4 separate regions of the Homo sapiens genome follow, and regions 2, 3 and 4 are each linked to region 1. Evidence: fine-mapped expression QTL. A gene starts in region 1. Each other region holds a variant in brackets. All regions are shown on one strand. Distances are between the middles of the regions. Region 1 holds the start of CNTN4 (contactin 4). Region 2 overlaps CNTN4 (contactin 4). Region 3 overlaps CNTN4 (contactin 4). Region 4 overlaps CNTN4 (contactin 4).

Region 1 (8,110 bases):
TTACTCCTTGGATTCTTCACTTCCTGACCATTGGTACTTAGTCTTTAAACTAAAACTCCATTTTTTAAAATTCACCTGTATGTCTACTTTGGGAGATCTAAGATGACATCTCCAAAACACATTCATCCTTTACACCTCATTCTATCCACATATGAGTCCATGAGAGGAAAACAAGTGTGCTTAATCTATTTGTTACAGAAGATATAGAAGTGTAGCAGTTTTACAACTGGCTAGAGTATCAGAGATGATGAACAGCAGAGCAGAGATAAGGAGAGAAAGATTTTAAAAATATCAAACCAGCAGTGATCTTTAAAGTGTGCTACACACCCCAGGGGCTGTACAAAATGATCCACCGGGATACATAACAGCAACATGAGACCTTCTATTTCATAATTTTTGCTTTATTCATCTTTTTTGTTTCTTTGTGTGTTTTATAAGTAGTGTATCATATAACAGCATGTCTTCAGTTTATAAATAAATTTTATTGATATGTTGTCAGATTTCTTCTGATAGTAAATAATAATAATAATGAAGATCAATAAATCTAGGCAGTAAATCCTGCCTCCTTGCCTCCTTCACTAGGCTTAAAACATAGCATTACAGGGAAAAATGAACAAAAAGGAACAAAAAAAATCAGTGTGTAGAGACTTCCCCCTGCCTATCATATGAAATAGACTTATTCAACTAAAATAATATAAAAGCAAGTTTTTACAAAATATTAATTTTTAAGATAAGAGAGATTGAAGCTAATGCATATTATGTCTGTCCTCAAATATAACAAAGAAGAAACAACAAGTTAAAATCATGATCAGACAAACTTGTAGAAAAGTCAGTACCATGCATGGGAATTTTCTGCTGAGCAGCTTTATTTTTTTAAGACCTAAATTGAAGGAACGGATGCCCTGTATACATTTCAGAAGAAAAACTGCAGCCAAAAGATTTAGTGCTTAGATCGGAAAAGAAATCAGAAGACCTACTTTTGAACAAAAAGGAGAGAGAAGTAGGTAAAATAAGTGAATGATAAAAAATCCAACATCATTTGAAAGGTTTGTTCTCTAATCACTCTTAATTACCTGCCAATATGAAATGACCATGGAAAAAGGTACTGCATTGACTCCCAATTGACTTGAAAAGTTTTACAACTCAAAGAAACTGAAAAGTGTTGTTTAAAAAACTGCAAATAGGAAAATCTACCTCTGTTGAAACTTACATGTGGCTCTGACATGCACCCTTATCCAAGTCACTTCTCTTAGACTCTTAGTCTTTAATTGAAAAGGTCAGTTTTTCCATCCTTGCCAGCTACCTCCCAGGGTTCAGATGGAAAAATAATGACGTTTATCAGCATCATCTCTCCTCAACAAGACAGAGCAGTTGAAACCAGCTTCAACAAACAAATCAATAGCTATTTTATAAGGTAGCAAAAATAATATTCTCATGAAACTTGTTTTTGATCCTTAGCAATCTTACCTACTCCTGCGACCCACTGCAGATATTCCCACAAAATCTTTAAAGAAATCAAGATAAAAATAGCAAGAATAAACTTACGGGTAACGTGAATTTTCTCATGAATGCCACCCAAATCACCTCCAGGTGCCTGTCTTCATGACACACTGTTCTTTTTCACCCACTTGGGTAGAGAGAGAGAAAGAGAGAACAAACTTGCTATTAGGCAGACTTGGGAACGCTATTGTATGGACCTGCTCATAGGCAACCTATACAGTCTTTACGCTCCTACCCCACTCTCTAAAGGACATAAACCAGAAATCTCAAAAAACAAAAAAATACAAGCGCGTTCCAAATTATCTTGTGTGGGTATCCAAACGACTCAGTTATGTGGAGTTACTCCTTGAACTATCCAGCTCCCACTACAGAAAATTGAAAGAGCTTCCCATGCAGTTAAATGCCACTGTTATTCTGACAAACATGTGCCCGCCCCTATGTTGATTCCAGCAGGAAAACTAGAAAAAGTTCCACGACATTCCTTTCAGGAACTCCTCTTACAAATAAACCTCCAACACACCTCAAGATCCGGCCCACTCTCCTCCACGCAGACCACACACCCAGGGTGCTCAGTCACACTGACTCGCCCTACACAACCTCCGCCAGCTTCTTCGCACCGAATCTGCAGACCCTGGCCAGCAAGCAACCGCCTGATCTTCCCGACGCGCGAAGCCGCCTCCTCGCAGGAGCTTCGCTGCGAAATGTTTCCATGCAGCCGACTCTCTGGCTGGTTCAGAGGGATTCAGGAGCCCACGTCCTCCTACCCTCACCTCCACACCCTTCATAAATAGTAAAACATATACACGAAGCACAAGAGAGAAAATGCACGAAGATTTTGAGCCCCGCGTTCCAGAAGGAGAGTGAGTGGATTGGGGTCTGTGGGGCGCCCGGCGCACAGTTCGCCGCCGTCTGGGCCCGGGGAGGGGACGGGGCGGTTGTCTTGCCTCTCGAAAGAAACTGGAAACCCCCCAGAAGTTGCTGGAAACGAATGCCACCCAACAGGCTCCCGCGGCAGAGACTGGGGAAGCCAGGTACCTTCCCTAAGAGCAGGCACCTGGCCTGTCGCTCGCCGCCGCAGCCTCAGCGCTCAGCAGCCAGCCCGGCACCCAGCGGGCGCCACAGACATCAGCCTCCGTCTCCACGCGGCTCCTTCCACCACGGCTACGGGCTCCTGTTCCTTTAGTCCCAGGTCCCTCCACTCCCCAGGTTCGCGTCCCTCTGCTGCGGGCTGTGACTGGGCTGTCAGAAGAAAAGCCCCGCCGGGAACCCGGCGCCAGAGGCCAGGGCGCACGGAGAGGGGGCAGTAGCCCGAACCAGTCGGAGGAGCTGACTTGAAGGCTTCCCGCAGCATTCCGGGCTCTCGGTTCCTTGTTTTGTGGCTGCCTCGCAGCGCAACAAACTTATTTTCCGGCTGAGAAGGAGAAGAAGGGTCGCTGTGGGGTGACGGTGGCGTCGTCGGGGCCCTGAGTCCTCCGCGCTCAGGCGTTCAGCTCCCGCTCCCCGACCCTGCAGGGCTTCCGGGCTCTGAGCTGGACGGCCCCGCAGACGCTGCCCGGCCCCGCGGGAGTCAGAGCCCCGGGAAGCGCCCCTGTCCTTCGGGCAACCCGCGCGGACCCTGCCCTTTCCCCCCCACACCCGCGACCGCGTCCCCGGGGCATCGCGCGCCCACGCAGGAGCCGGACCCGCACAGCTGCCGCCTCACTTACCTCAGCACCGGGGCGCCGGGCTGGCGAGAGCCTCGGGTGCGGCGCCGGCACAGTCCGAGGGGCCCGGGGCGGCGGCGAAAGCTCCCTACTTGCAGCCAATCCTGGCGTCGAACCCCGGGCTCCGTCTGGCGCGGCGCTGCCCTCCCTCCCGGCGCTCGCGGCGGCTGGAAAAACCTGGCGCGCCGGAGTTCGGGCTGCCGGCTCCTTAGCCGCGGGGCGGGGGAGACGCTCGGGGAAGGGGAGAGGCGCGGGCGGGTGGGAACGGGCGGGAGACGAGCGGGGACGGGGAGACGCGCCGGAGGCCCGGAGCCCGCGCATGCTCAGTGCGCGGCCGGAGGAGGCGAGCGCTGGGGACGCAGCACCTGCCCCGCGCGGCCGAGAGGCGGCAGCCCCAGGTCCCCAGCGCGCGAAATTAGTAAAGGGCGCCTGGCCCGATTCTCAGGCAAGAGGAGATTATCAGCCGGATTCCCGTGCGGGGACGTAGGGGTTGCGTTGTTCAGCGGCCAGGGATGCGCCGAGGCGATGTCTCCTCCCTTTACAACCCGAGTATCGGGGCACGAGGAGGCGCGACCTTCCTGGGTACCCAAACCTCTGGCCTCCGGGAGACGCGGAATTCGGGGGATCGTTAAGGCGCCCTGGCCAGGGAAACAGATGCTTCTGCGTCTGGGCTGAAAATTGCTGAACCGGGGAATGTGGGTGGGCGGGTGGCATTGAACTTAGGCCAGAAGAGGGGGCTTTGGTAGGTTTTTACCTGCCTGTCCTTAGGCGGAGGACACTGGCTGGACAGGCTGCGTTACACACCTGAAGTCTCATCCACGCAAAGTGCTTTCAGGTTGGAATGTGGGGCGGGGGCGGGGGGAGGTCAGAGGGAACAGTTGCTGTAAATTAGGTACAAGGATCAATTTGTGGTGTGTTGTGCGCGGGGGTGGGGCATGTCGAAAGCCTTGTTATTCGAAAGAATGTGCTTTGAACGACGTTGCCACGGTCATTCTACATTATGAATCTACTGTTTCCTTGCAGAAGTGGCTCCCTTCGCCGCAACTCCACACCTCGGGGTAACCGTAGAGATTGGCAGCAATGCCCCAGCCCCTCACCAGCACTGTGCAAAGTGACTTTGACAGGCAGAGAAAAGCCAACCCAGTCGAATTCGTCTGGAAAGCATTCCAGCAACCCAGAGAGGAGCCTCTGTTTCTCTCTCTGGGAAAAAGCCCCAAGGGTTTTGCTGAACCCAGGTCTTCCTGCTCATCTCTCAGCAGTTCAGAGCTACATAAACAACTTCTGACCATTTACGCAATCATGTAAACCTACCCTGACATCTCCACTATGTGGAAAAGATGTTAACTGGAAAACTATTTTTAAACTACTGCAGTAAGCAAATAAACATCCAACTCCAACATATATATGCAGCAGCCTTATTAGTTCATTCAGTGTTGGTTTGGTTTGTTTGTTTTGTCTTCTGCTTTTTAGAATTAATTATTATCTTTATAATTCCTGTTCGAGAAGTGGGCAAAACCAGGCTAGTGATAGGTATTGTTGTGGTCAAATTTTTCATCACTTGAAATTCCATGACTTTCATGATTGCTGAGATTAATGCTAAATAAAGAAGTTACCCCCCCGCCCCCACCCCACCCCAACCTCCCCACCAAAGTTTCCTGATTACTTAAACTTGGAGAGAAATTTTCAGGCTTTTTCCTCCCTCCTTGCCTGGTATGTGTCTGTAATAGAGGTACTTTTGCAAAACTGGAATGTTGGTGATGCAGGTGTTTTCCATGGTAAACAGCCACTGAGGATCAATGGTTCCCAGGTTCCCACTCACTTTGAAGGCTTTTGTGCTTCTGCCGGAACTGTGACTTTTACTACCTGTACTATGTATGATTTTTTTTTACATTGATTATTTCTCTGCAACTAGTCAATTAAAAGTACATATATATAACTTTTAGTAAGACTGTTTATCAAAATATGCTTCACCAGAAGTTCTCCAGAAAATATTCCTGTGTAGTCATGCATACTCCTAACACATTAAAGGGAAATGTCGTGTTTTAGACTGGACACAGAATTTCAGAAAAGAACAAAGAATAAAATATGCTGTCACATTCTCCCACTGGGACTATACATTGAAGCAATTTTCAAAGTTTTATGACAATTTCAGGCAAAGTCCCTTAACTGTGTTTCTAAATTTCAAATGTACATATTTTGTTTCCATTCTCCCCTTTGGCCCTTATTCTGTGCCTGCTATATGCTAGGCATTGTCTTCTAGTAGATTCTGGGAAACAAACTAAACATGACCAAGACTTGCTCCACAGTTCACCATGTAGTTAGGAAAACAGACATTGTGTATCTGGAGAGACAGATTTGGGTCGTGTTGAGGGGATATCAGTTAAACGTTAAGTTAGGAGGAGGCATTTTTTCTTTTCACCAACACACCCCCACACTGATCCAGTGCTAAGCTTGTTCAGTCCCTCCCCAACATTTTCTCTAGAACAGCAGCTAGTTTAAAATGCAGCCAATAATCCAGTCCCTTTTTTCCATCCTGCAGCAAAGAAGCGATGCTCAGCTGCCACCTCTGCCAAGATAGAAAGCCTCTTGCGGAAGCTCCCAGGATTGGGGAGTGTTCCTAATAGACTCAACCCCTGTCAGGGGACAGAAATGGTTTATTTTGATGACAACAGCCTCACACGTGTGTCTCTACATATCCAGGACCCCGACTGCGTGTCCGTTTCTTGATCAGGGGACCTGTGATTGGGATTCTCTGGAGGGGAATGTTCCAAACGAATCAATTAACGCCCCCAGCAGCAAGTTCAATACCACTGCACTGAGACCCAGCTCTGTATCATTGCATGAATGAATTACTGGTGCTCATGTAATTTGCAAATAATCATCATTCTAACACAGTGGAAAATTTCTCCTGCCCGTTTAGCCTGAGTAGCAGCTGAGCAGAGAGCTGCAATAACCCTCACAACACCCTCCAAAATAACTATTTACACATATGTGAAGTTTTACATCCAGGTCTTTTAATATGGGAGTATCTACATAGACACAAGGTCACCTCTTACACTCATTAAACCAATTGAATGAGGACTGATAACTCTTAAGGGAAATCAACGCTGAAACCGCTTTTGACTTTTTGGAGACATGAATGGAATACATCATCAGGTTTTACTCAGCATGCAACCGTTGTGCAAACTCCAGAAAGGGCATCTCTCTGTCCCACTCCCCCATTACCCCTGCCTTATTCCTTCTCTACACATCTGAAGATTTGATAAGTGGGGATTTACTGTAAGAGGAGGAAAGAGGAAAAGCATCACAGGAAAAGAAATACCTCTTTTCTGACCACATCTGATTTGATGCTATTTTCTCCTTACTCCTGGCATCCAGTGGGATTTTAAAAAACTCATATATGCCACCTTTCTTTGTTCTAAATGACTTGAATAAGGTCGTTCAATGGCAGGAGCGACTCAATCAGATAAAAATGTGCAGGTTTTATAATTACGGTTTTACTTGTTTAATGTATAGCTACCTGAATAGATCTTCAAGCATAAAGTAGCAATTATCCCATCCCTGATTTTAAAATATAAACTCAAGTTTGCTTTAATTAAGTAGATAAATCAGTATTTAAATAAACAATTGTATCAAGAAGAGCTTTGTGTTCAGTTTCGAACTGGAGTATAATAAAGTAGAACTCAGCTAAGGACTTTCAAACCAGCCTTGCAAAGCTTCCTTCTATGCAATTGTTTTAGGTGACTGATTGACACTTAAGCTTTAAACTAAGGACATTGGACTAATAATGGGCCCATACTGGGATAATGATAATTAGCACACAAAAGCACAGTTAATTGCCATGAAGGTTGGACACAGACTGACAGATAGAGTCAAAGTAAACTAGAAACCTGACACCCCAGCCAAGATTCCTTTATAAACGTGGCTGTGAGACACCCACTGAATTTAAACATAATAAGGTGGAATTAGGGACCAATCAACTGTTTTCTTAGCCACACGTTTTCCAGATTTTTTTGGATTCTTTATACAAAATCCAAAAATAATTGTTCCAAAGGTCTATTAGTTGCAAAAGTATTTATAGTTGATTTCTGATGTCCTCAGTAATTATGTTCTATAAAGTCACTGCAAACACTGGAGACAATAAAGGGTTATGTTCCTGACAGCCTCTGGTAACAAGATTTTCATCAACTGATAAAGATACCTTCTTTAATATATACTGTTGATTCATTAACATAGAACTCATGGCCTGCAGCACTGTAATTCTTGCCTGAACAAAACTTATCTAACACATGTATTTTCTCTGTGAGGCACATCACAGCTTTCTTTTGCTTAGGAATGCTAGACAGCACTCCAGCACTGTGCTCGAGGCCATTTTAAGCAGCAAAATCACCAACAGAAAAACCCAAAATTTGAGAAACATGCACTAAATATACTGCAAAAAGGAGACTTTTTTAGAATATGAGAGCTGAAACAAGAACACAGAGCATCACTTTGTTTGATCTAAGCTGGGAATGTGTGCATTGGGCAACTACAATTTTTATTCTCTGTGCATCTACAAATACCTCTGTGCGTCTACAAGTGTCTACTCAAGTGCCTTAAGTATTGACTTTGGAGTTATAAGTAAATTTCAGTAAGTGGGCAAATTCACAAATATGTTATCTGTGAATAATGAGGGTCAACTGTACCAAATGTCTCCTTTAAACGGCCACATCCGCCCATATGGTATGCGATTCAATTTAGAGACATTCAATTTATACAGAATTCATCAAATCATTTATCTTTTCATCTTATCCTAAACAATTTACATTGTATTCACATAACTGTAATTACATATTTTCTTAAATATTTTCATTTTGTTCATGTTTTTAATATCAGTTTCTTCATATTCAATGTGTCCTGAACTTTTC
Region 2 (8,110 bases), 790 kb before region 1:
ACATACTTTGCTGATACTGGCTGATATCTTGTATTATAAGAACGGCTTTGGAAATGCAGTCTGGGGATTGGAAGCCTGTTTTCTCCTTGAATTCAGATTCGTTTGGACCTAATGATGTCTAACACTCCTTTTCATTTGATTTGATTTGATTTTTATTTATTTATTTTTTTTGAGACAGAGTCTGGCTCTGTCGCCCAGACCAGAGTGCGGTGGCGCCATCTTGGCTCGCTGCAAACTCTGCCTTCTGGGTTCACGCCATTCTCCTGCCTCAGCCTCCCGAGTAGCTGGGACCACAGGCGCCCGCCACCACGCTCGGCTAATTTTTGTATTTTTAGTAGAGACGGGGTTTCACCCTGTTAGCCAGGATGGTCTCGATCTCCTGACCTTGTGATCCGCCCGCCTCGGCCTCCCAAAGTGCTGGGATGACAGGCGTGAGCCACTGCGCCCAGCCCCTCCTTTTGATTTTAATAAGTGAAACCTTTAGCCTTTAGATTGTCTCTTAAACCAACAGGATTCATAGTTCTCCTAGTTTTTCTGTTAATTTGTACTTCATTCACACACTCTTATTTATGGCTTCTTCATCTCCACATAAGTTACAACTGACTTGCTTCTGGCAATGGTATGGGAGATGGCATCTCCCATAGGCCAATCCTTTTACAGATAGCACGGATAGCAAGGATAAACTCAAGTTCAGATATAAAAACCAACTATATGAAGATACACTAGAAGGCAACTCAAAGCTGGCATATTTCTATTAATAGGTATTCATGAATACATAAAGCAAATATAACTGTAGGAAGTAATCTGTATGCGAGATAACAAGTAAGATTTCTGAATGTGCTCTGCCTCCTGTAAATGTTATGAAAATTAGGAGAACATTATCATTATTTCATATCTTTAGGTTAATATTGAAAGTCTTCTGCCATCTGACCAGGTGTGGTGGCTCATGCCTGTAATCCCAGCACTTTGGGAGGCCGAGGCAGGTGGATCATCTGAGGTCAGGAGTTTGAAACCAGCCTGGCCAACATGGTGAAACCTCATCTTTCCTAAAAATACAAAAATTAGCCGGGCATGGTGGTGCCTGTCTGTAGTCCCAGCTACTCAGGAGGCTGAGGCGCGAGAATCACGGTGAGCTGAGATCGTACCACTGTACTCCAGCATGGGGGACAGAGCAAGACCCTGTCTCGAAAATAAATTAACAAATACATAAATGAAAATGAAGTCTTCTGCCATCTGATTTTACCTACATCTCTTACTTTCTGTCCAACTATGCCCATTGAATTCACAGCTCTTGGTGAATAAGGGTCTTTGTCCTCCACTCCAATAAGTCAGTTCAGAACTTTATAAATGAGTTATAGAATAAAAACATTGTAAATCAGCAATATGTGGATTTTCAAAAAGGCTGTTGGGCCCGATTTACTCAGTTATACCCAGATCAATCAAGCTATGACTCTAACCTTACACAGATTCATTTCTCTATATTTCTTTCTTTTATTTTTTTAATCTTCAAAGCCTCTACCTAGTGTTTCCCTCAATCTGCTCTTACTCAGCTGAATCCATCCCCTTCTCTTTCCCTTATACACCTTGAGTTCAGTCCCAAATGCAACCAATAATGGAAACTACTAATATATGGAATATCTAATCAGCTTCACTTTATGCACATCATTTCTAAACCTCATAATAATATTCAGGTTAAGTAGACTTGTACTCATTTTATAGGTAAGGCCCAGAGACATTAACATCCAGATTCAGAAAGTAGCTCAGTTAGCAATGGTACACAGGCCTGCTTGGCTCCAACATCCATTCTCTGTCCAGAGCCTCTCAAAAAATGTCCAACCCTAACACAAATGACAATGGTAGCATTCTTTTGAATGTATCCTTCTTAAAGTGCAATCTAAGAACCATTGTAGGTCCCCAGGTTTCCTTAAGAGAGTCCATTATGTCCTCTCTTTCCAATTATATATGTGTCAGACCATATTTTCTTCATATACTTCAATCAAAACAAAATATCATGACAGACTGAATACAGAAGTATATAGGAGAATGCACTTTTATTCTAGTAAGACAGACATTACAGAGATTTGCAAAAATATAAACCAAGCTACTCTTTTCATTAAATATTTTTATTTGGAAAAATATAGTCAGTTTTCTTATGTTAATTATTTCTAACATATACTGGTTGTATTTTTGTTATTTTAAAGTAAATTAAGTTCTAAGTTAAATTCTCCATTTAAATTAATTATATGGCATATATGGGTAGATATAACTCACATAAACAAAGGCTCTTTGAGGTATCCAATAATTTTTCAGGGTAAAAAGGAGTCCTTAAACCAACAGTTTGAGCCCTCCTGCTTAGACAAGCAGAGGAACTTCTAGATAAATGAATCAACTTAAGCAAAACCTCCTATAAGTAAATTTAAACAATATTCATTGGTGAATAAAAAAATGTAACTGTGACATTTTGCCTTCTCTGGGACTATAGAGTGAGATGACTTGAATTGCATTTCAATATATTGTCCTTGATATGACTCTTTTTTTCATGGCTTAACGTTTCTTATTAGGTGAGGACTTTATGCCTCCACTCCTGTATTAATTCTCTCTATTATTCGCAACGTTTGCTTAATGCGTACCCCTTAAAAACTGTAGCAACATACTTTATTGGAACTATCAGATGAAAGAAAGAAACAAAAATTGTTGACTTTATCTTAAGTGACAGGGGAATTGAGGGTATCAATATCAGTTCTGTCTAGGACAATTAAGCAAACTATTGCCCTACTGTGAAATTACCTTATGTACTGTGTTCAGTCTTTGGTTACTCTGTCCTTTAAGCTTCTTTGCAGGGCTGAATATTATCTTGTGATCACATATACATAGCACATCCATGGGGAATTAGTATGCTCTGCTGTAAGATGCTTAAGTATTCATTTATTGATGACCTTAGAGATACTCAAACACCATTTGCAGTGTCATCAAGCCTACAGTTTTGCCTTTAGAGGCAAAGGACTGTAGCACAAAGGCTCTAGACATTTAGTCTTACATGTAATTTGAAGAAGAAAAAAAGGGTTTTTTTGGACTCAATAACCAGGTGACCAACTTAGAAAATAGAAAGTGAAAAAGTCAGTTGTTCATCCAGATGTTTTCATTTGTGACACTGGTAATGGAAAACGCAAGAAAGAGTATCCGGATGATTGATGGATTTTTTTCACCTTACCTATTGTATTAAAATGTTGTATTGGCAGGAAAAGTAACACAGGTAGAATAGCAGAAAAAAGCAGTTCTAGCTGTGATTCCCATTCACTGCATTACCTTGAATAAGTTATTTTGTATCTCTGGATCTTATTTTCCTTAATTATAAAAATCAAAGGGTTGGCCCCAGCAGTTGCTTCCAGCTTAAGTATTACTGGATTCTGTGAAATACAGCCTTGTTTACTGCTCAAATATTAGATTCCCCATTTCCTAATTATGAAGATGGTTTAACTCTCATAACACCTGTTACAAAGAGAAGAAACTGTACAAAGATATTAAATATCAGGCTCTTGTAGTTCACACTTCATTCTACTAAATGATGACTATAATTCTATCAGTCTTTTTGGGCAAAAAGGAAGTGACTACAGAGACAGAATGAAGTGCAAAGATGAATAATTACCAAGTGAATTAAATACATTTTATATTTCCCTTTCCTTTCTTCAAAGATAATTGCCTTAGCGCTCTCATTCTACTTTGTGTAGACTGGCTAAAATGCCTGATGTGACAGTAAGCTGTTAGCTTTCCAGAGTAGCAGGAACACCTTCTCTTGCATGTCATTTAATCTTCAGCTTCACAATACCATGGGTGGACAACCTAAACATAGAGCATTCTCACTATGTGGTTCCCAGACAAGCAGCATCAGCATTACTTGGGAACTTACTAGAAATGCAAATGCTTGGTTCTACCCTGGACTTACCA[A/G]ATCAAAGCCTCCATCTGGTATGTTCCCACTGGGAACATAGAACGAGACCCAGAATTCTGTGTTGTAATAAGACTTCCAAGTGATTGTGATGCACACTGAAGTTTCAGAACCTCTAGCAAAGCATTCGAAATCTAGCTCTGTTTTTTACTGTATAAACTTAAATCAATTACTTTAATCTCTTTGGGACTCAATTTCCATATCTATAAACTAGACAGATGTAGGAATGAAATGAGCATATCCTATTGGCTCTAACTCCAAAATATATCTCAAGTCTCTCCATTTCTCTTCCTCTCTTACGTCCTAACCAACAATGTCTCTCACCTGGATATTGGCAATGGTCCGGCTTTTGCTCTTGGTTTCCAATCATCCATTCACCACAAAACAACCTGAGCGGTCTTTTCAAAACATTAATCAAATCGAGTCACCCTCCTGCCTTGAAATGCTGTAATGGCTTCCCATTTTACTCAGAGAATAAAACCCAAACTCTGTGCCTGGCTTACAAAGTACTGCAGTCTGTCACCTTCCCAAGTTTCAAACCTTTGCCCCTTGCTCACTATGATTTAGTTAACACTGACTTCCCTGCTGCATATCAAGAAAGTCAAGTAGTTTTCTGCCTCAGAGTCTTTGCACTTCCTCACCTTCTGCCAGCAATGCACTTCCCCTTGAAAGCCTAGCTCATTTTCATCCTTTAGGTTTTGGGTCAGAGGGCAATTCCCAGACAAGTCTTTCCTGACTACTTCATCTTATGAAATCTTTCTCTTGCTCTCAGCTACTTTCTATCATATCAAATTATTTATTTATTTATTTATTTGAGATGGAGTCTTGCTCTGTTGCCCAGGCTGGAGTGCAGTGGCACAACCTCGGCTCACTGGAACCTCCGCCTCCTGGGTTCAAGTGATTCTCCTGCCTCAGCCTCCCGTGTAGTTGGGACTACCGGCATGCACCACCACCACACCCAGCTAATTTTTATATTTTAGTAGAGACGGAGCTGGTTTCGAATTCCTGGCCTCAAGTGACTCACCCACTTCGGCCTCCCAAAGTGCTGGGATTACAGGCATAAGCCACTGCACCTGGCCAATCAACCTCATTATTTTCTTTATCACTCTTACCAAAAAATAAAATTTCCTAGTTAATTTATTTGCTTAATAGTGCATTTTGGTTAACTTCCAGTAAAATATTAGGTCCTTGAGGGCAGGGATTTTGTCTTGCAGCCATAGTGCCTGATAATGTCTCCCACATGGTAGGCAATAAAAAAAAATTTGTTAAACAAGTAAATAATGTATTAAAGTCATTTTGGAAAATGTTTATCTTTAGTAACAGAGATCCATAGCATTTTACCACTGAAAATAAATCTATTTTTAGGAAGTTTTTAATGCCAAAAACAGACTGAGAAAAGTAGATTCAACTAGACCGTACAGGTTATAGCAAAAACAAATTGGGAAGATGGGGTAGGGTAAAAATGTTCTATCTCTGAACTTGCTTCAGTTCTTCATACATACCAAACATGAGTAGCACAGGGTAACTTAAAGACATGGCTACAGTAGGGACAAACCAAAGGGCAATAGGGCTTCCATTATTCAGACACTGGGAACAATCATCATGCCTAGTAGGCTTTTGAAAGAAGGCAAAATGGTTTTAATGCAAAATGGTTTTAATGCAAGAAGGAAAAAAATTGCCATTTTGCCAACCCTGAATAGGAGTTAGCACACTTCTGGTTGCTGAAGTGGAGAGCTGATGAATGCAATAAACAACCTGGAACCCAAAGAAGCAGGTTTCTAAGCTCAAACCCATGGTTTATAATTCCTAGGTTGTAAGAAATTCTTGTCAACAAAGACAGAATGTTCATGGATAAGTGACTGGGGTACTTTCTCACCTTTTATCATCTACATGGTGATTTTAATTATCATAATTCATTTAAATTGGAGACCTATGCAGCTGGATATTAGGAACACAGCACTGGGAAGACCCAGACCAGAAAAAAGTGAGAGGAAAAAAGATGACAGCCAAGTGCTTATGTATAATTAAGCTCTCCTGTGGCTGTGACAATGAAAACAATTAGATAATTTTTGTCACTGATGTGCTAGATGAGGAAAAACAAAAGAATAAACATAAATGCAATAGCCAAGTGCTGTGGAAGTCAACTGATCTGACAAGTTTTTAACACCAAGCGTGGCTGACAAGTGAGCTAAGGCTGAGTTATCTTCAGAAAGCAGGCAAATTTTATTTTATTCTGCTCTTTTTCCCATGCATGGCTGCAGATAACTCCATTTAAAAAGGAAACATTGTTAGAACCTGATTTTCATCTCCAGGGCAGGATCCCTGAAAAAAACATTTCCCTGCACAGGGCTGGGAGCCAGTGACAAAGTTGATTTTCCATAACAGTAATCCTGGAGTACTGTATTTCCAGTGCAGGAAACCTCTAACCCACAGGAAAGCAGTATGCCGACCCCTGGTTGCAGAAAATTTCATACCAGTTTAACATACTGAGAGCAGGAATTTCAGTTAACAGAAAATCATGAAAGTTAAAATGACTTTATTCAATTAGTTAAGCTACTCAAATAACATTTAGGAACAGCCACCACTGAACTGAAGAGACTATTCAACCAAGAAAAAAGAGAAAATGTTGGCCAATTATCTGAATATTTACAGATTGTTCCTATCTGATATAGAAAAAATAATTATTACATTGGTGAGAAAAACGAGCCCTACACAGTTAAAAATACACAGCCATAGCATCTCACTGAATAAATCTGTAATTTACAGTCTCATGATTTTGCAGTCAGTTAACTGTGGTGTCTTTTGCTTTACAACCCATCAACTAAGATACCAACTATGACAGTTTAAGAGGAAAGCAAAGATTAAATATCAAGTCTGTCATCTGGCATGAGGAGAGTCAGTCCTTTAATATTCTTGAAGACAGACGAATGATAAAAGAGAAGTGCAGATGTATTCAAACAGCTACTGCCCAGCTCATCAAGTGAAGTATTAATACTTTCTACAACTCTGTGTGTTCTCTCCCCTCAGAAGCTGCATCAGGGGAACGTGAGTCCAAAATGAAATGCTGAGAGTCACTTAGGGGAGGTCATTGAAGGCTGGCTCATAGTGGAAATCTCTGCCCAGTTTCCAATCAAGATTTAAAAAATGTTACGTGATTATCGATCAGAATTCTTTGGCCATAGCTTTTTCTTTTATTCCTTCCTTCCTTCCTTTTTCCCTTTCCCTCCCTCCCTCCCTTCCTTCCATTTCTTTCTTTCTTTTTGGAAGGGAGAGCTTTATTAGTCTGCCTGGTGGCCATTCTGACAGGCTAGGAAGCGTAGCCTCCCTTGGCCAGAAGCTGTAAACAGGCACTTCCAAGGAGGAGCAAAGGGAACAAACAGGAATTTGTGCTGAGTGGAATGGCCGAATATACATATTTAATAAGCTACAGGAGGAATCATGGATATTTATGAAAGAAGAAACATGTGCATGTGCAACTGAGTTTCATGGGTTCTGTGTATGAAATATACATATTTTCATATGTACATAAATATGTATATAAATATGAATATATGTATATTTCATACACAGAAGCCATGAATTTATATACATATTCATATGTATATAAATATGAATATACATATTTAATAAGCTACAGGAGGAGTCATGGATATTTATGAAAGGAGAACCATCTGCATGTGCAACCCTTCATGGGTTCCGGGTATGAAAAATGGCAGTATTAGCATCTGAGGGTGGAGGTTTTGGCCCTGTGATGTCAAAAGGTAGACCAGAGGACATGAAACCCCTCACGGCACATCCTCCCTAGAATGACAGAACCATTCTGTGTTGGTGGTCTCTTATCAGGCAAAAAATAAGGGGCAGCATCAGGTGCATGGTTGATGTCAGTGATGGAGTCTTTTCAAAGGGCTAGATTGTGTTTAGCCCTTAGGGAAGAAAGGCTCATTGCGGTTAGCAAGGGAGCAGGTATAACTAGATGTGTCTGACATTACCCTCCCATCATGGCCAAGAACTCATTTTTCAATGTTACTCTGGGCCCCCCCTTAGCCAAGAGGGGTCCCCTTCTGTCTACTGGAGGGCTTAGAACTTCGGTCATATCTTAAAACCAAAATGCTTTGGAAGAAGAATTAGTGAAATAAATAGACTTTTGTGGGATCAATTACTGCAAGA
Region 3 (8,110 bases), 290 kb before region 1:
TATATTTTTCAAATGTCTCTATTATTAAATATTCTTCTATGTATTAAGTAACCAAATAGTAATATAAACAAATTTCTTAAACAATAAAAAAGCCAACTGCATAAATGAAGAAGGATGCCATTATTATGTAACATCATAGTCAAAACAAAATAATACAAAATCATACTTCTTTTGATAAAAAATAAATTCACAGTAGTAGCAAGTGCTGTACACTTATTTTTTAAATGTTCTTTTTACTCTTAATAAAGATTTGCCTTAAGAATAATAAAACTAACTCATCAGGTTAAATATTTAATAAGTGATTTGCCAACTGCTTCACAAAGACAATACTTTGTAAAGAACCCTTGCATTACCAAAAGCATTTTTAAGAGATATACAGCAAAATAGACTGTGTCACATCTAAGTAACTTTAGATATTTTTCAATATTTCATTCATTTAAATTATTGTATATTTACTATCAGATAAGTTTTATAAATTTGAGTAATTCCAGATGACACACAAAATGAATATTTATTTATTACTATAGTAGACTATAACTGATATTGGAAGTCACACGACTTATGGTTAGCAAGTTCAAAACTCTAACTTCTATTTCTTCCCTTTAGGTAGTCTTCCTGAAGTAAAGATGCAAAGCCAACAGATGGAGAGAAACAGAGGTTCACGGGTTTGCCACATGCATGATTTCTATAATCTCTAAATTGAATGCGCTTAGTTGCAGCTACATCTTATCTCAAATATCTGCAATAATTATCTCCAATGCTCAATTAAATTTTTGCATTTCTCAATTTATCACTAACTACCCTATGTATATGTTTCAGTTATAACTCATCTCAAATAATTTTAAAAGACTTATGTAATACTTAATAATTCGTTGAAATGTTTCCCTTTCGTTTCTAAAGAGGAAAATGTGCCCTTAGCCATCACTTTTTAAATCTAAAAGCTACAAACAGAAATTGCTTTGCAATTTTCATGTACTCCTTAGAAATTTTCTAGCTTCAAACATGTGATATTTGCTTCTCTTACATAAACGTCTCCAAAAATGACTGCTAAAAATGAAAACATCTTTTCCAACAAATATTTTCAATGCAATGTAAACACATATTGCAAACAATGATTTAAACTAATTCCAAGAAACCCAGCTATTGGCATTCTAGGATTTTGCTAGTTAGGGGAACTGGCCCCAGATGGGGAAAGCATTCTTTGTTGTCTGAAGTGATTACAGTAAAACAGGCCCAGACAGAAAAACTATGGGTTGTATGTCTCAATACTGCAACTTTACCACCTGGCCATTCTACTGTCACACAAAGGTCAAGCAGACAGCAATGCAATTTTGAGGTGGGGAAGGAAAATAATCCAGTCAGAATTCAAGCAAATGTTTGAATTCAGAGTTTGAATTCAGAGAATGTTTGAGTTCAATAAGCACTCATTTTTCCCTTCTGGGAACCATGTAAGGCAATGAGATATGAAGATAAATAATATATAGGCCCTTACTTGAGGAATTCCTAATCTAACCAATGTCATAGATATATGAACAAATATACTGTGACATGAAAATTAATAAGTAGTGTGTGCAAGGTATAGTAAGACGTAATTCCTATAAAATGAAGGTGGGGTGATAACCTCTCTTCTGAACATAAAAAGAAGGATTCTCGGGAGCGACTGCTGAGTGAGAATGCATGTATTCATTCATTTATCAAATATTGATGGAACATTGTTATGGGTTGAATTGTGTCGCTAAAAAGATGTGTTGAAGTCTTGACCCCTGGTACGTGTGAATGTGACCTTATTTGGAAGCAGGGTCTTTGCAAATGTAACCAAGTTAAGATGAGTTCATTAGGATAGGTCATATCCAATAAGACTTATGTCCTTATGAGAAGAGGAAAAAATTTGAACACACAGGCATACAGGGAATGCAGCATGTGAAGATGGAGGATGAGAGATGAGCTTGGAGTTATGCTCCCACAAGCTGCAGAACAACTGGGGCTAACAGAAGCTGAGAGATGCGACCCTCCCCTAGAGGTTACAGACGGAGCACAGCCCTACCAACACCTGATTTTGGACTTCTGGCCTCTAGAAGTGTGAGAGAATAAACTTCTGTCATTTTAAGTCACCCTGTGTATGGTACTTTGCTGTGGCAGTCCTAAGAAACTAATACAAGCATCTGCTATGAACAAGACACCAGGAATATTGCTCAGGTAATAGTGGAGAAAAGGACAAAGACTCTGCCTTAAGTATGCTAATAGGTTATTCAGTGCAACAAGAGTAATATAAACAAAACTATAAACAGGTATTGTTTGTTGGGAGAGTTTTAAGTGATTTGATATTACTGTAGAAATAAAAAGTGTAGAAATAAAAATAAAAAATAAAAAACTGAGTAGAAAGTTGAGTAGTAGACAGATTATTTTTAAAAAGAGTTTGGGATTAACCTTGTTGATATGAGTTATGGATTATGGTTTAAAGTAGAAAATGATATGTTTATACTTTTAACAGGTCACTCTGATATCAGCAATGTAATTTATTTGTTCTGGGTAATACCAGAATAGACCAGTTAGGAAGGAAGAGTAAGAGGCGAAGCAAGAGAGAAAAGGAGGATCTGAATGGAGGCAGTAAAACCAACAATGACTTTCAAGCCAAATGAGTTTGAACGTCAACCACTGTAGAAGGGGCTATATGAAACCAATGTTTTAAAAAAGAATATTGCTTAAGGCAGTGCACTAACAAAAAAGAAAAATCTGCAAAAATAGGTTAAAAAAAGATAGGTAAAAATTAGTCCTTCTACTTAGAAACCAAGGATATAATGTAGAGGTAACATGAACACACACACACACACACACACACACACGCACACATTGAGTTGTTACTGGTGTAGGAGCCAGGGACAAATTTACATGTGAGAGCTGCCTGAATAGCTGGGCTAAGAGCATGGGAGATGTGAGAGTCCTATTCAGGTGTCATAGAAGAAAAAGAGATTTCCACAAAGGGAGTAATTTTAAGTCCTGATTTAGCTGGGCATTTGCAATTCACCATGACTTAAGATTTGTTTTTGACAAACTCATGATTTCCCAATCTATTGTGTTAGAAAACCATTAAAATAAGCATAATAAATATGTCTCTTCTTGGCATTCTCTAACATTAAATCTAAGCAGTTTCCCTTGCTTTTTCCCCACAATTTAATCTAACAGG[C/T]GGATTTATGTGCTGCGAGTAATTAGGCGACTTTGGAAGAGGTAAGATGGTAAGATGAGAACTTTGGTGGAAGCATGCCACGGCTAGACTAAAGCAACTTAAGCCAGGATTCATAGCATTTGCCCTCCAGGTGCTCAGAAGTAGTGAACTTAAGCAGGTCCATCAGTACACCAGGGCCTACGTTTAGGCTTGTTCCTGTACAACAACATATTAATGATGTTAATAATAATGATAGCAATTAAAGGTTACTGAGTCCTTATGATGCACACGGCTACATGCTGTAAGCTCAATTCATTAGCTTATTTGATTCACCCAACAACCGTATAAAGTAGGCCCTAATCTTATTCTCCCAGCAGAAAAGCCAACTTCAGAGAATATAATTTTTTCAAGGGTGAATTAGAGATGTGAATACATTTTTAATTATAGTTATTACAGTCAGTCATAGGTATCAAATGGTTGTGATATATACATACACAGAAGGTCTCCAACTTAATGGTTTGACTTATAATTTTGTGGCTTTACAATGGGTTTATTAGAACACAAGTCAAGGAGTAACTGTATACAGAATTTATATATATATGGAGTGAGATAGGGAGAGAGGAGAGGGAGACAGAGGGAGAAGAGAGGAAAGAAAGGGAGAGGGAAGGGAGAGGAGAGGGAGAAGAGAGGAGAGGGAGAAGAGAGAAGAGGGAGAGACAGAAGAAGGAGAGGGAGGGAAAGAAAGGGAAGGATAGGGAGAGGAAGGGAGGCAAAGGGAAATGGGGGAAGAGAGAGTGGCGGAGAGGGAGAGGGGGAGAGAGGGAGAGGGAGCAGAAGGAGAGAGAGAGAAAATAGTGCTGTCGTTACATTTATGGATTCTTGACAAGATTCCCTAGGACCCAGACCCATTTGTGCTGTGTTACCTGGGACAATTTACCTAATCCCTCCAGGCCTCAATTTTCTCAACCGTGAAATGGAAAAAATAAATAGTACGTACTTCAAAGGGTTGTGGGAAGATTAAGGCAGTTAAAACTGTGCATAGAAAGTATAAAGGAAGAAAGCACTACTTAGCCATTATCATTCTCACTTTCATCATCATCATCATCACTATAAATGGTTACTCATTACTGTAGATATTTAAACAGAGGTTGGATAAATATAAGGCAAGCGTATTATAAAAAGGATTCACATGCTGGATAGGTAATTGGATAAGATTATCATTATTCTGTGAGTTAAGTTATATGCTCATATAAGTCTGGGAAATACTACATAATATATTGCCTCCTTGGACTTTTAAAATTAATGTCAGACATATTAAGGTCCTCAATTGTCAATGAAGCTATTTATCTTACTTTTTTTTTTTTTTGAGATGGATTTTCGCTGTTGTCACCCAGGCTGGAGTGCAGTGGCACAATCTCGGCTCACTGCAACCTCCGCCTCCCGAGTTCAAGCAATTCTCCTGCCTCAGCCTCCCCAGTAGCTGGAATTACAGGCGCCTGCCACCATGCCCAGCTAATTTTTGTATTTTTAGTAGAGATGGGGGTTTCACCATGTTGGCCAGGCTGGTCTCGAACTCCTGACCTCAGGTGATCCGCCCGCCTCGGCCTCCCGAAGTGCTGGGGTTACAGGCATGAGCCACCAGGCCTGGCCTTTATCTTACTTTTAATCCATCATTTTCCAGTTCTGTCAGACAATGCTACCCTTCCTGTACTTTACAGCTCAGTTTAACTCACAGCACTGGCATACCTAACAGGGTATATTGTCTAATCTGGAAGCAAAAGGAAGCATTCCTTATTTTCGTTCCTAATGTACCAGTAATTCAAACTCAAATAGCCAGTCACATAAATGAGCAGAATAAAAGTAGAAGTCAAGCCTTTTAGGAACTAGAATTTTTTAGAAAGTGTTCCTGTTTAACTGATTACAGATTTAGGCTAAAAAATGCCTCCTGGTGTAAGTAATCTAAACTCAGACTAACAAATCACAATAGGGCCGGACGCAGTGGCTCATGCCTGCAATCCCAGCACTTTGGGAGGCCGAGGCGGGTGGATCATGAGGTCAGGAGTTCAAGACCAGCCTGGCCAAGATGGTGAAACCCAGTCTCTACTAAAAGTACAAAAATTACAGCGCGCCTGTAATCCCAGCTACTCGGGAGGCTGAGGCAGGAGAATCGCTTGAACCCGGGGGGCAGAGGTTGCAGTGAGCTGAGATCGCGCCACTGCACTCCAGCCTGGGTGACAGAGCAAGACTCCATCTCAAAAAAAAAAAAAAAATCACGATAGGAAGAAAATGTAAGAAAAGAATGTTCAGTAAGGTGTATACCATGTTTTTTATATAAAGCTGTATAGAGTGGTCCACTTTAAACATATCTCTAGCAGACATCACAGAGCCATAAATCTTATGTCCCTAAGCAAATCAAAATTATTTTTTGTGTGTGAATGAAACAGGGTTTGTGCCTTTGTCTCAAGATTTGGGAAGAACAATACATTTTCTTGCCAGTTCGAAATTTTATTTTTTTAATTTTACACAGCTCTACAGAGACAATTTGGTCTTAGAACCTTGCACCTTCATAGAAAAATTTCAAATTCTTGGCTAAGATATTAAAATATATGTTTTCTGAATATTTTCAATGAGCTAAAAACATTTTTAAAATATGCAATATTTTATAAGAAATACATAATTTTTTAATTTATATAATCAAAACAGTACCAGAGCCTTTAACAGCCTTTGTTAAAGAATGGAGACTTTTTATACATCATTTACAAATATTTTAATTGGAAGAAAATCAGTTTGAAAGTCTTCAAATATTCATCTTAACCTACAGACTTAGAAGGGAAAAACTACCATGCATTATGTGCCAGATATTCTCCTAAGCGCTTTTACATATTTTATATCTTTTGACTTCAGATTTATTAATGCCACATTACAGAACACTATAGTTCAAAGAGTTTAAGTTATGTTCCCAACACCTCCAGACTAGTGATAGCTAAGTAAGAGACCTAAGTGCAGAAGGTGAAACTTGATCTGATTGTCATGTTGACTGTTCTGTACATTGTTCTAAGGGGGAAATGTAGGACAAGGTACAAAGTATTATAAGGCAAATATTGGGGCCCATTTCTCTCTAGAAAAAACAAAACAAGGCCAGGCGCAGTGGCTCACGCCTGTAATCCCAGCACTTTGGGAGGCCGAGGCGGGTGGATCACGAGGTCAGGAGATCGAGACCATCCTGGCTAACATGGTGAAACCCCATCTCTACTAAAAATACAAAAAAATTAGCCGGGTGTGGTGGCGGGCGCCTGTAGTCCCAGCTACTCAGGAGGCTGAGGCAGGAGAATGGCGGGAACCCAGAAGGCAGAGGTTGCAGTGAGCCGAGATTGTGCCACTGCACTCCAGCCTGGGCGACTGACCAAGACTCTGTCTCCAAAAAAAAAAGGAAGAAAAAAACAAAACAAAACAAAAGAAGGGAAAGGTTTAAAAATTTGGAAACATCAGTACTCAAGACAATAGAAAATAACAGTGTTGAATTCAGAAAATAGAAAAACACATATGATTCAAATTGATCTGGTCAATTATAAACCAACTAATACAGAAATCACAAAATAACAATCTTTGAAGCTAGAAAGACACCTAGTTTGCTCTTTCCTCTCTTAGGCATCCCCTTTTGCAAATGAAGCTACAAACTCTAGAGAGAATAAGTTATTCGTTCTTATGTAAAATAGGATAAGAATGGAAAAAAAAAAAAAGAAACCCACTAAGCATGCATGATCAGCAAGTCCAATCTGGATATACTGAATTTGGCAATAGTCAATGTAGTAAATGACCTGGGTAAACTGATCATTTTGTTAGATCTACTCAGTGTAAAGTGGGAATATTTACTTAGCCCCTAAAAGTGGTGTTCAGATAAACCAATTAAAATTTGCAAAATATCCTTCAAGAGTGGTAAGCATCGTTACTATTCAAATTCATACCAAATCTCACCTGTTCTGCATAGCTATATAAAGGTAAAATAGACACATTTCATGTTCTTCAACTATTTCCTCTTTCCAATCTACAACATCAGATCTTAGTGCTCTTTAATATTTTATCCAAATGACTTAAAGAATCAAAAGAGAAAAACAGATTCCTGGACTAACAACAGAGATGCAAACCCTAATGTTACCATTGAGGCTGAGATACGCTGCCAATATCTAAATTTTACATAAAAAGGAAGGGCTGCTTTGGAAAATTCTCATCCCATTTTCCCTAACTTCTGTGAAAACACAATGGATAGAGGAAAGAGAATGACATTTTTATTTCAGATGATCAAAGTTATTGAGAGCTTATACCAAGAGACACAGTATCTAATTAAATTATCACCAAAACCCTATGATTTTTTTTTTTTTTTTTTGAGATGGAGTTTCACTCTTGTTGACCAAGCTGGAATGCAATGGTGCGATCTCAGCTCACCGCAACCTCCATCTCCTGGGTTCAAGCGATTCTCCGGTCTCAGCCTCCCGAGTAGCTGGGATTACATGCATGTGCCACCATGCCCAGCTAATTTTTTTGTATTTTTCCTAGAGATGGGGTTTCTCCATGTTTGTCAGGTTGGTCTCGAACTCCCCACCTCAGATAATCCGCCCACCTCGGCCTCCAAAAGTGCTAGGATTACAGGCGTGAGCCACCGCGCCCGGCCATGATGATATTCTTATAACCCACAGTAGTTTAAGCAAATGAGGAAACTGTCACTTTGAGAGGTTATATAATGTTCCCAAGATCAAATAGCCTGAAAAAGTCATGACAACAGATTCAAATTCTTGCAGTCTAATTTCAAAAATAAGATTTTAACAACAAATGATATCTCCTATCCCTGACATATTTTATAAATACTCATCTAATGCTCATAAATAACAATTTATACTAACATAGCAGTTATATAAAAAAGACAAAAGAGGCCTGTGGTACTCCGGATGC
Region 4 (8,110 bases), 960 kb before region 1:
ACATTGCCTCCTGGATATAAACAACCACAATTTTGATGGTGGGAATAACACAATCATTCTTTCTTAATATCAAAGTCTATGCACCTTCTACCTCACAGGCTGGAAGAATTCAGAGCTTACCTGAGAAATGAAGCTTATCATCCATGTCTTCTGTGCCCATGGAAAGGTGCTGCTTTGTATGTAGCATGTGTGGGCTCCATAGAAAGTAGGTACACTGAGAGAATCCAAATATCTGGCACAATAGAATTTCCTTTCATACAGTTAAATCACAAGTGGACTACACACACAAAAAGGAGGGCAAGAGTAAGCACTTTGAAAGGTTAAACAAGCAAAGCAAATTTTCCTAGTGGTCCTCCTTCAGAAAAAAATCTCAAGCAGCAATATAGTCATTCCACTCGAGTGTATTACTTGGGCTAAGGGCCTAAGAAAGTCCCCTTGGCTGGCTAAGCCTAGAAAATCTGTTACTTATACCAACCCAGCATTTCTTCTCTTACCTTTGGAAAACAGCATCTTAGTTTTCCTTTAACTATCCCTCCCCTGTGAGTACAAGGTACTCTGGCTGTGGAACTCAAATGGAACTGATCACTTTCCCAGGAATCTGAATATTGAGCATAATGGCGTCAAAATTGGAAACAAAGCTGATTCATCCCCACAATAGCACCCCAAAAAGACTTTCCAAAGTTCCCATTGTCTGGACCCACAGAGTGGCCTGGTTCTTATTCTCCTCAAGAGTTGGTCCTTCAGTGTTTCCTTGGCTCATATGATGTAACCTGTGTCATTCTAATTCCTTACTTTTTGTTTGCTCAAGTTACCCAGGGTCGTTTCTTTGCTTACAGCCAGTGGACCCTACCTGAGGCAACCATGAAAGCCAACAAATGAGACAAGTTTGGGTGGAGGTGCTCATGGGGCACTTTCTAAAACATCTTCAATTCAGTTAGACTCAACTAATCCAGGACCTCATTTACCCGATGATGAAGCCAATTGGTCAAAGACTTCTTCCAGGTACAAAGTTAGAAGCCAGGCCTTTTAACGCTTTTCAGCACATAACGAAAGTAATGACACAGTCTTCCCTGGTTGGTTTGCTGTGGCACACAGGCAGGCAACTGATGCAAAATGCTACTTCAAAGACCCCTTCATTCAATTAATCAGTGAGTATTTATTGCAAGGCACTGTGCTAGGCACTATGGAGAGTACATGGAAGATAAGACCAAAGTCCCTGCCCTCAAGGAGCTTACAATCTAGTTGGGAAGACAAGCCATACATACAAGAAAAAGTAAGTAACAATACAGGAGTTAAATTAAAATGCAAGATAACAGTACAAGAGATTTCCAAAAGTAGTATCTGATTAATTACTAAATGAGCAGCATTGATAGGGGATGCAACTACTTCCAAGCGAGAATGTCATAAAGGACTGAAGCATGGGAAGTCTTTGCAGACAAACTGGGGCTGGAGCTACCCTAGGACAGCAGGGATCTGAATGGGAGAGAAGGGTGGAGAAGGCATTTCAGGAAGGGGCAGCCATAAGACCAAAGGCACAGAGGTGAGACCAAAAGCAAGCAGTGTTCAGGGGTCAGGGAGGGCTTACTGTGGCTGGATACACAGTTAAATCGTTTTGGATTAAAAAGGGCCTTAAGGGCCGGGTGCGGTGGCTCAAGCCTGTAATCCCAGCACTGTGGGAGGCCGAGGCGGGCAGATCACCTGAGGTCAGGTGTTTGAGACCAGCCTGACTAACATGGTGAAATCTCGTCTCTACTAAAAATCCAAAAATTAGTCCGGTGTAGTGGTGGGCGCCTCGGGAGGCTGAGGCAGGAGAATTGCTTGAACCTGGGAGGCGGAGGTTGCAGTGAGCCGAGATCGCAACATTGCACTCCAGCCTGGGTGACAAGAGTGAGACTCCGTCTCAAAAAAAAAAGAGCCTTAAATGCTCAAGCTTAGAACTTACCCTTTTAGCAATGGGGGGTGAGGGAAACAACAGATATACTTACAGTAAATATACAAAAGACTTAGCTAATCAAGAGAAAATATTCAAGTCTCATCTTCAGGACATTTACTTGTGGATTAGGACCCTCTCTACTTCCAAAGAGGATTTGAAATGGTGCTTCAGGGTTGTCAATTCCAAAGGAAAAGCTCTGGGTCATCTAGATTTGGGTAGAGACTTTTGAGTCCCTCTATGATCCCAAATTATAACTAGCACAAAGGTAAGCTAACAAATTCCCTGACAGGCAGGCAGGAAAAATGCTCCCGAAAGACAAGTATCTTTACAAATGACAGAATATTTATTAACAATACCTTTAAAAAAGATTACATATGCTAGATCACTGGTAAATATCATTTACACTGGGGTTGGGAACTCCCTGGGTGTCATTTTTTTTCGTTCATTTTATTATTTTGCTGATTTTTTTTTTGCATGTGATTTTAAATTTTATTTCAACATAGAAGTAACCATATCAAACTAAGAAAGGAACACAGCTTGAAATACTGACAATATTTTTTTCCGGTTACCACCCTAGTTTTTACACAAATGGAATCCCGATTATGACTTTATTGGATAAATATAACTAGAAGGTTGAAAAGTTATATTATTTGTAAGCAAAAATGACAAACTATAGCAAATTTGAGTTCTCTGAGAAAGAAGAAAAGGTGGCAGCATGTTTACATGAGAAAATGTTTATAGAAAATTCCATTGCCTTTTATGTCACTGTCCAGTAGGGTTTACTCACAAAACCTTTCTCATTGTAACAAATAGTTCTTTTCATAAGAATACAGTTTTGTTGATATTGTCATTTTCCAATGTGTGATTTTAAGACCTAGAAGGTAAAGCATATAAAGCAACTAGGCTACCTATTGCAAAACAGAATCATCAAGAAACCATACAATTGTACTAAAGAGCTTTTATAGAGTCATATTAAAAATTCTTGCAGCAACTATTTGTTGAAATAGGAGCAATCTTCCAAAGTCCATATGTAATTTTGATTCAAAAGAAGGGCTCTATTATTACAGAGATACACATATTATATATAAGAAATTTTGTAAAGAAATTACGAATCCATTGACAGAGAATTACTTTTTTTAAATTTACATTCAAAATAGATACAGTTAAAGATAATAAAATGATCTTTTATCCTTTGAAAGACTTGGTTGACTATAGTAACTTTGGGTCTATGTTACTACAGGATATATGTTACTTCAAATTTAATGTCTAAGATAATGCTACCACAAAGACAATGCTAACTCAGTTGAGTGAAAAGAAAATCTTCCTGTACAATGCTAAATTCAGGGATGGGAATATTGCACAAGGTGCCTCTTGGGCAGTACATTGAGCTTTTGAGATTGCAGCCATTCCTGAAACCATCTCAAGTTGGGTTGAACAACAAAATTCACAACGGCATGAAAACATACTGTACATGTCAAAATCACAACGGCATGGGAAACATACTGTACATGTCAAGTGCATTAACCACTAGAAGAGTAGTTTGCATACAACAGCCTTGAGTTACGGACCAAGTCTTCCGCTGTTCTGCCATGAGATCCTTGTAAAACTGTACGAGTAATTTGCAATTTATTTACCAAGATGAGTTTCAAACTCTGTCTTTAAAGGAAATATTTTCAAATTATAATTGCATGATTGTGTTGCCCATAGCATTTTACAGCCGAGGAAAAAATTAATATCTACATTATATGTTAACTTTAAAAAATTCTATAAAACACTAAATATATAATAAAAAATATGCATATAAGGACATATGTAAACTGCTTTGGTAACATCATATTACAGATGTCTTCAGTGCATTGCAGAGTTTCCAAAGAAACTTCAGACAAAGCTAGATTTGCTTTGAGGAAGTACTGTATAATGCCATTC[C/G]TAAAGAAGCAAAAAACATTTTTATTCCAGTAATAAGATGTACTTGAACAACAATATTACTTAGTACTGGGTGTCTTCAAAACAACTAGCTAAATGTTGCTTATATTATAAACAGCAAGTCCTTCAGATAACTTTTGTCATAAACTGGACCTAGCTGTGAGGGAAATCATTATTGTACTGATGGCTGACAGCGTACATGCATTCGAAGTGGAAGCCCCAGATCCTCTCGCGTAGGCATCTGAAAAGAGAGAACAAATTCACTCAAAACAGCCCCATCCCGGCTTCAAAGGGAAGAGGGGCCACGGGGCTTTTTGAAACAGCAGAACTGCATGGATTCTACTGGAAATGATGATCAAGGTCTTAATGGCTTTTAAATATCAGTTCTATGACTACCAAGCTACAAACCTGGGAGTAGGGTATAGGACAGCCCTGTACCTCTGTCAAAGCATTTGTAAAGTAAGGAGGTTCCTATCTAATGTGAGAAGAAACTTCAATATTACTAGTAACAATACTGATAAACAGCATGCTATGTCGATGATTCAACAAAATGAAAATTGCTGCTCCCTTTTGAACTCTATCTTTCTGCTGGGCACAGATGAATATGACACTTAAATCTTGCAAAAACTGGATGAAGGCCAGGTATTATTATTACCTCGCTTAACAGATGGCGGTAATTTGCGCCCAGAGAAATAAAGTAACTTATCTAAGATCACCCAGCTAGTAAATGGCTAAACTGGGGTTCAAACCCATGTCTGTCTAAATCTACCCCTTTTCTGCAAACAAAATAGCCTCAATCCTTTTTTAAATTTTCTTATGGGTCTTACACTTTTCATAGTAAGAAGCTATCAACTGTCATTCGGGGGTTCTTCAATCTTGTAAGGTCTCTTTGACCAACATGATGAAAAATCTCTTGAAACAGATCATGTTTGGTTCACAGTCACTTCCTTGTTATCTAATAATTACACCAATATAATTGCTTAATATATGTTTTTGTAATGAATAAAACCAGGAATCATCAGTCTATCTAAAAATGTCAATCCCTGCAATGATAAGAAAGTATGAAGTATAAAGTCAGATTTTTAATGAAGCGAGATAAGCCCCAATCTTGTATTTTTGTGGCCTGGAGATTTTACTTCCACATCTCACCAAAAATCTAGCTCCCTTTCGATAGAAGTTAGAGGCTTTGTTTGATAAAGTATAATCCAATTGTCCCCCTTTTAAGACAAAAATGCCTTTTGTGTTTGTATGCAAAAAAGATGCAGTAAATATAAACTCCATCCAGAAACACTGGCATATCACCCCTTAGCAGAGGGATGTCACATGGCTAAAAGTCAGGATGGTGGTGAGGATTTTGTCCATAATTTAAAATATCATCTTTTTACCAATGTCTTGAAAATTTATACCTCCAGCCTTCACTGCTCCCCTAATCTCCAGACTGAAATCTGAAAGCCTGTGAAAGTCTACACTTAGATATCTAACCACAGTCTTTTTTTTATTGCTGTAAAATACACATAACAAAATTAGCATTTTAACTCATTTAAAATGTACAAATCAGTGGTACTAAGTATACTCCAGTGTTGTGCAACCAGCACCACTCTCAAGCTCCATAACTTTTGTGTCACCCCAAATGAAGACCCAGTGCCTAAACCCCCATTCCCCACTGACCAGCCACTGCCAATCACTAGCCTCACTTCTGTCTCCACGGATTTGGCTATTTTGTTTTTTTTCTTTAAATAAATGAGATCACACACAACAACAAAAAAATCATGCTCTTAAGATACTTACAAACATGGTATTTGTAAAAACAGAATTGAATGTATTTGCTCAAAAAGAATATGCTATTCTCCCATGCTATTCAACAACATTTGAAAGTGAAGATAATCTTGACTATAGAGAGACATACACATTGATGCACATGTTGCATATACCCATTGAAAATAAGTAGTAAATTCCAAATATTTCCAAGATACTGAACTGCATACACTGTTTCACTGGAGAAAAACTGCTACGGCATACTTAACAATGCTTGTCCTTGTTCCTTCTGACTGAGTCAATGCTTTTCACTTTCTAAACTGTAATTCTGGGGCTACAATAGATGCAATGCAAACTACACAGGTTGACACGGAAAAACCTTAGTGACTAATTCGGGTCTGCTTTAATCTGATTTTTGATTAGCAACTGAGTAGATCAGTCAACACGGGCAAACTGATTTTTGCATGAAACTGCCTATGGCCAGCAAACATCTGGAGAAGGGGGGTAGTGTTCTCCATTTCTATTTTAAGTCTGCTTTTGCAGGCTGAATGTCTTTCAAGCCCTGACTCATCTGGAAGGCTGATAAGATAAGACAGGCAGGAGAAAAGGGAGAAAAAAAGGCATTCTCACTTGATATCTTTGGAATTCGAATTTGTTCACTGCTGCTGCCATCTCCTCCGTCGCTGAATGGCTTAATTTCTATTATATAATCTTCATCGAAAGGCAAAGAAAGCTCCACCGATGTTTTATTTGTTTCAATGACAGATGTGCTGCTTTGTCTGTTCCATCTGTACAAGACCTGCCAATACAGAAAGAACAGGTGTCACCTGCCGTCTTCACAAAGGTCCCAAATATGGAGCATTCATTTGTTTTCACCTCTGGGCACGAGCAAAATGCAGGGATGTAGAGGTTGTCTGGCTGCCCACTTGCATTTGGAAGGCTCATTTGCAGTGAGGGCCATGACTGCAGCTACCATTTTATTCCAAGGAAAGAGCTGAAAGGATATTATATCAGGGGCATCAGCAACGTGATTCTACCTACTGCCTAGCCTCTCGGAGGCTCAGTTGACACTCTTGGGAAAGTGGAAAATATGAGTAGCTCCTTAAGGATGTACAGTGCTCAGTTACACATCGGTGCTTTGGCATCAGAATAAACTTGGCCACTGTGGGATCACAGGCCACTTCACCTTTCAGAGCCTCACTTCAGTCATCTGTAAAAGGGGGACAATAATACCCAGTCTTCTGGAGTGTGTTTTCAAGATTGCACAAGGAGGCTGGGTGCAGTGGCCCATGCCTATAGTGTCAGCACTTTGGGAGGCCAAGGTGGGTGACTCACTTGAGGCCAGGAGTTTGAGACCAGCCTGACCAACATGGCGAAACCCTGTCTCTACAAAAAATACAAAAATTAGCCAGACATGATGGCACACACCTGTAATCCCAGCTACTCCAGAGGCTGAGGCAGGAGAATTGCTTGCACCCGGGAGGCAGACGTTGCAGTGAGCCGAGATCAAGCCACTGCACTCCAGCCTGGGTGACAGAGCAAGACTGTCTCAAAAATATAAAAATACAAAAGATTGCACAAGGTTTGAATCTGGTGATGGCCTAGCTTAGAGGAAGCATGTAAGAAATAGTATCTCTGAAGGCTTAAAGATAATCAGAGAACATACATGGCAAAGGTTAGAGCACAAGCCAGGCACAATAAGTTATGATCACGACTCTTAGAGACAGGACATTTCAGCACAGGGAGAAGATATCGGAAAGGCAAGAGTAGTAACCTCCCATTCCTTTCCTCTGGAACCCCACTTTATGGGGCTAGGTAGCCAAGAGGCAACCATTGTCACCCTGGACATATCTGCAGCTTGCAACAGTCCTGTTTTCATCTTGGGCCCCCCATGGGTTCTGAGTTTGGAGGTGGATTCATTTGATGAGGTGGCCAACTAGCCTCCTAAAAACACATTCACTTACCTGGGATTGCCTGCTGTGATTGGATTTACTCCAATCAGGAACAAAATATACAGGTCTGGGAAAGTGTGCCTTTACCTATAGAACCACTAAAGCTCATCCTCTGTAGTTTCCCCTGACAAAAAGATAGGGTTGGATGAGGTCAGTGGTTTTTGGTCCTGGCTGCATGTTAGAACCATTGGGGTGCTTGTAAAATACTTATGCTGTAGCTCAGTGGTTTTCAACAGGGTGGGAGGGGCAGGGGAGCAATTTTGCCTCACAGGGAGGTATCTGGCAATGTCTGCAGACATGTTTGTCAAAACATGTCCTCCTGTTGTAGTGGATAGAGAGACCAGGGATGCTGCTGAACAGTCTACAATGCACAGAGCAGCCCCGCAACAAAGAACTCTCTAGCTCAAAGTGTTGACTGTGAGGAGGTCAGTAACCCCGCTCCAGTTCCACTCTAGCCTGCCTAAGACTGCACAGAGGTGGGATCCATGCTGTAGTTGTTTTCTAAAAGATCATCAGGAGATGTTAATATGGGATAGGCATCATGATT

The links. PIP is the estimated chance that this variant, and not a neighbour inherited with it, causes the effect.
Region 2: its variant is fine-mapped to the expression of CNTN4 in testis (GTEx, PIP 0.95).
Region 3: its variant is fine-mapped to the expression of CNTN4 in nasal epithelium (TOPMed, PIP above 0.99).
Region 4: its variant is fine-mapped to the expression of CNTN4 in testis (GTEx, PIP above 0.99).

The regions. Positions count from the first base shown.
Region 1 is chr3:2,094,075-2,102,184 of GRCh38, reverse strand. It overlaps CNTN4 (contactin 4), which reads right to left and starts at 3,319. Exons shown (of 25, transcript NM_175607.3): 1 at 3,207-3,319; 2 at 1,546-1,627. LOC124909338 (a long non-coding RNA gene) reads left to right here and starts at 3,930. Exons shown (of 2, transcript XR_007095785.1): 1 at 3,930-4,038; 2 at 4,227-4,604. RefSeq lists an enhancer at 6,756-7,363.
Region 2 is chr3:2,888,094-2,896,203 of GRCh38, reverse strand. The region is part of intron 10 of CNTN4 (contactin 4); the gene reads right to left. Among named protein-coding and RNA genes, the nearest start is that of CNTN4-AS1, 170 kb to the left of the region's middle. The variant A/G (reference allele first, on the strand shown) is at 3,946.
Region 3 is chr3:2,379,495-2,387,604 of GRCh38, reverse strand. All of the region lies in intron 3 of CNTN4 (contactin 4), which reads right to left. Among named protein-coding and RNA genes, the nearest start is that of CNTN4-AS2, 240 kb to the right of the region's middle. The variant C/T (reference allele first, on the strand shown) is at 3,185.
Region 4 is chr3:3,052,107-3,060,216 of GRCh38, reverse strand. CNTN4 (contactin 4) reads right to left here. Exons shown (of 25, transcript NM_175607.3): 24 at 6,242-6,410; 25 at 2,258-4,097. The coding sequence ends at 3,997. All of the region lies in intron 1 of CNTN4-AS1 (CNTN4 antisense RNA 1), which reads left to right. Among named protein-coding and RNA genes, the nearest start is that of CNTN4-AS1, 5.0 kb to the left of the region's middle. The variant C/G (reference allele first, on the strand shown) is at 3,860.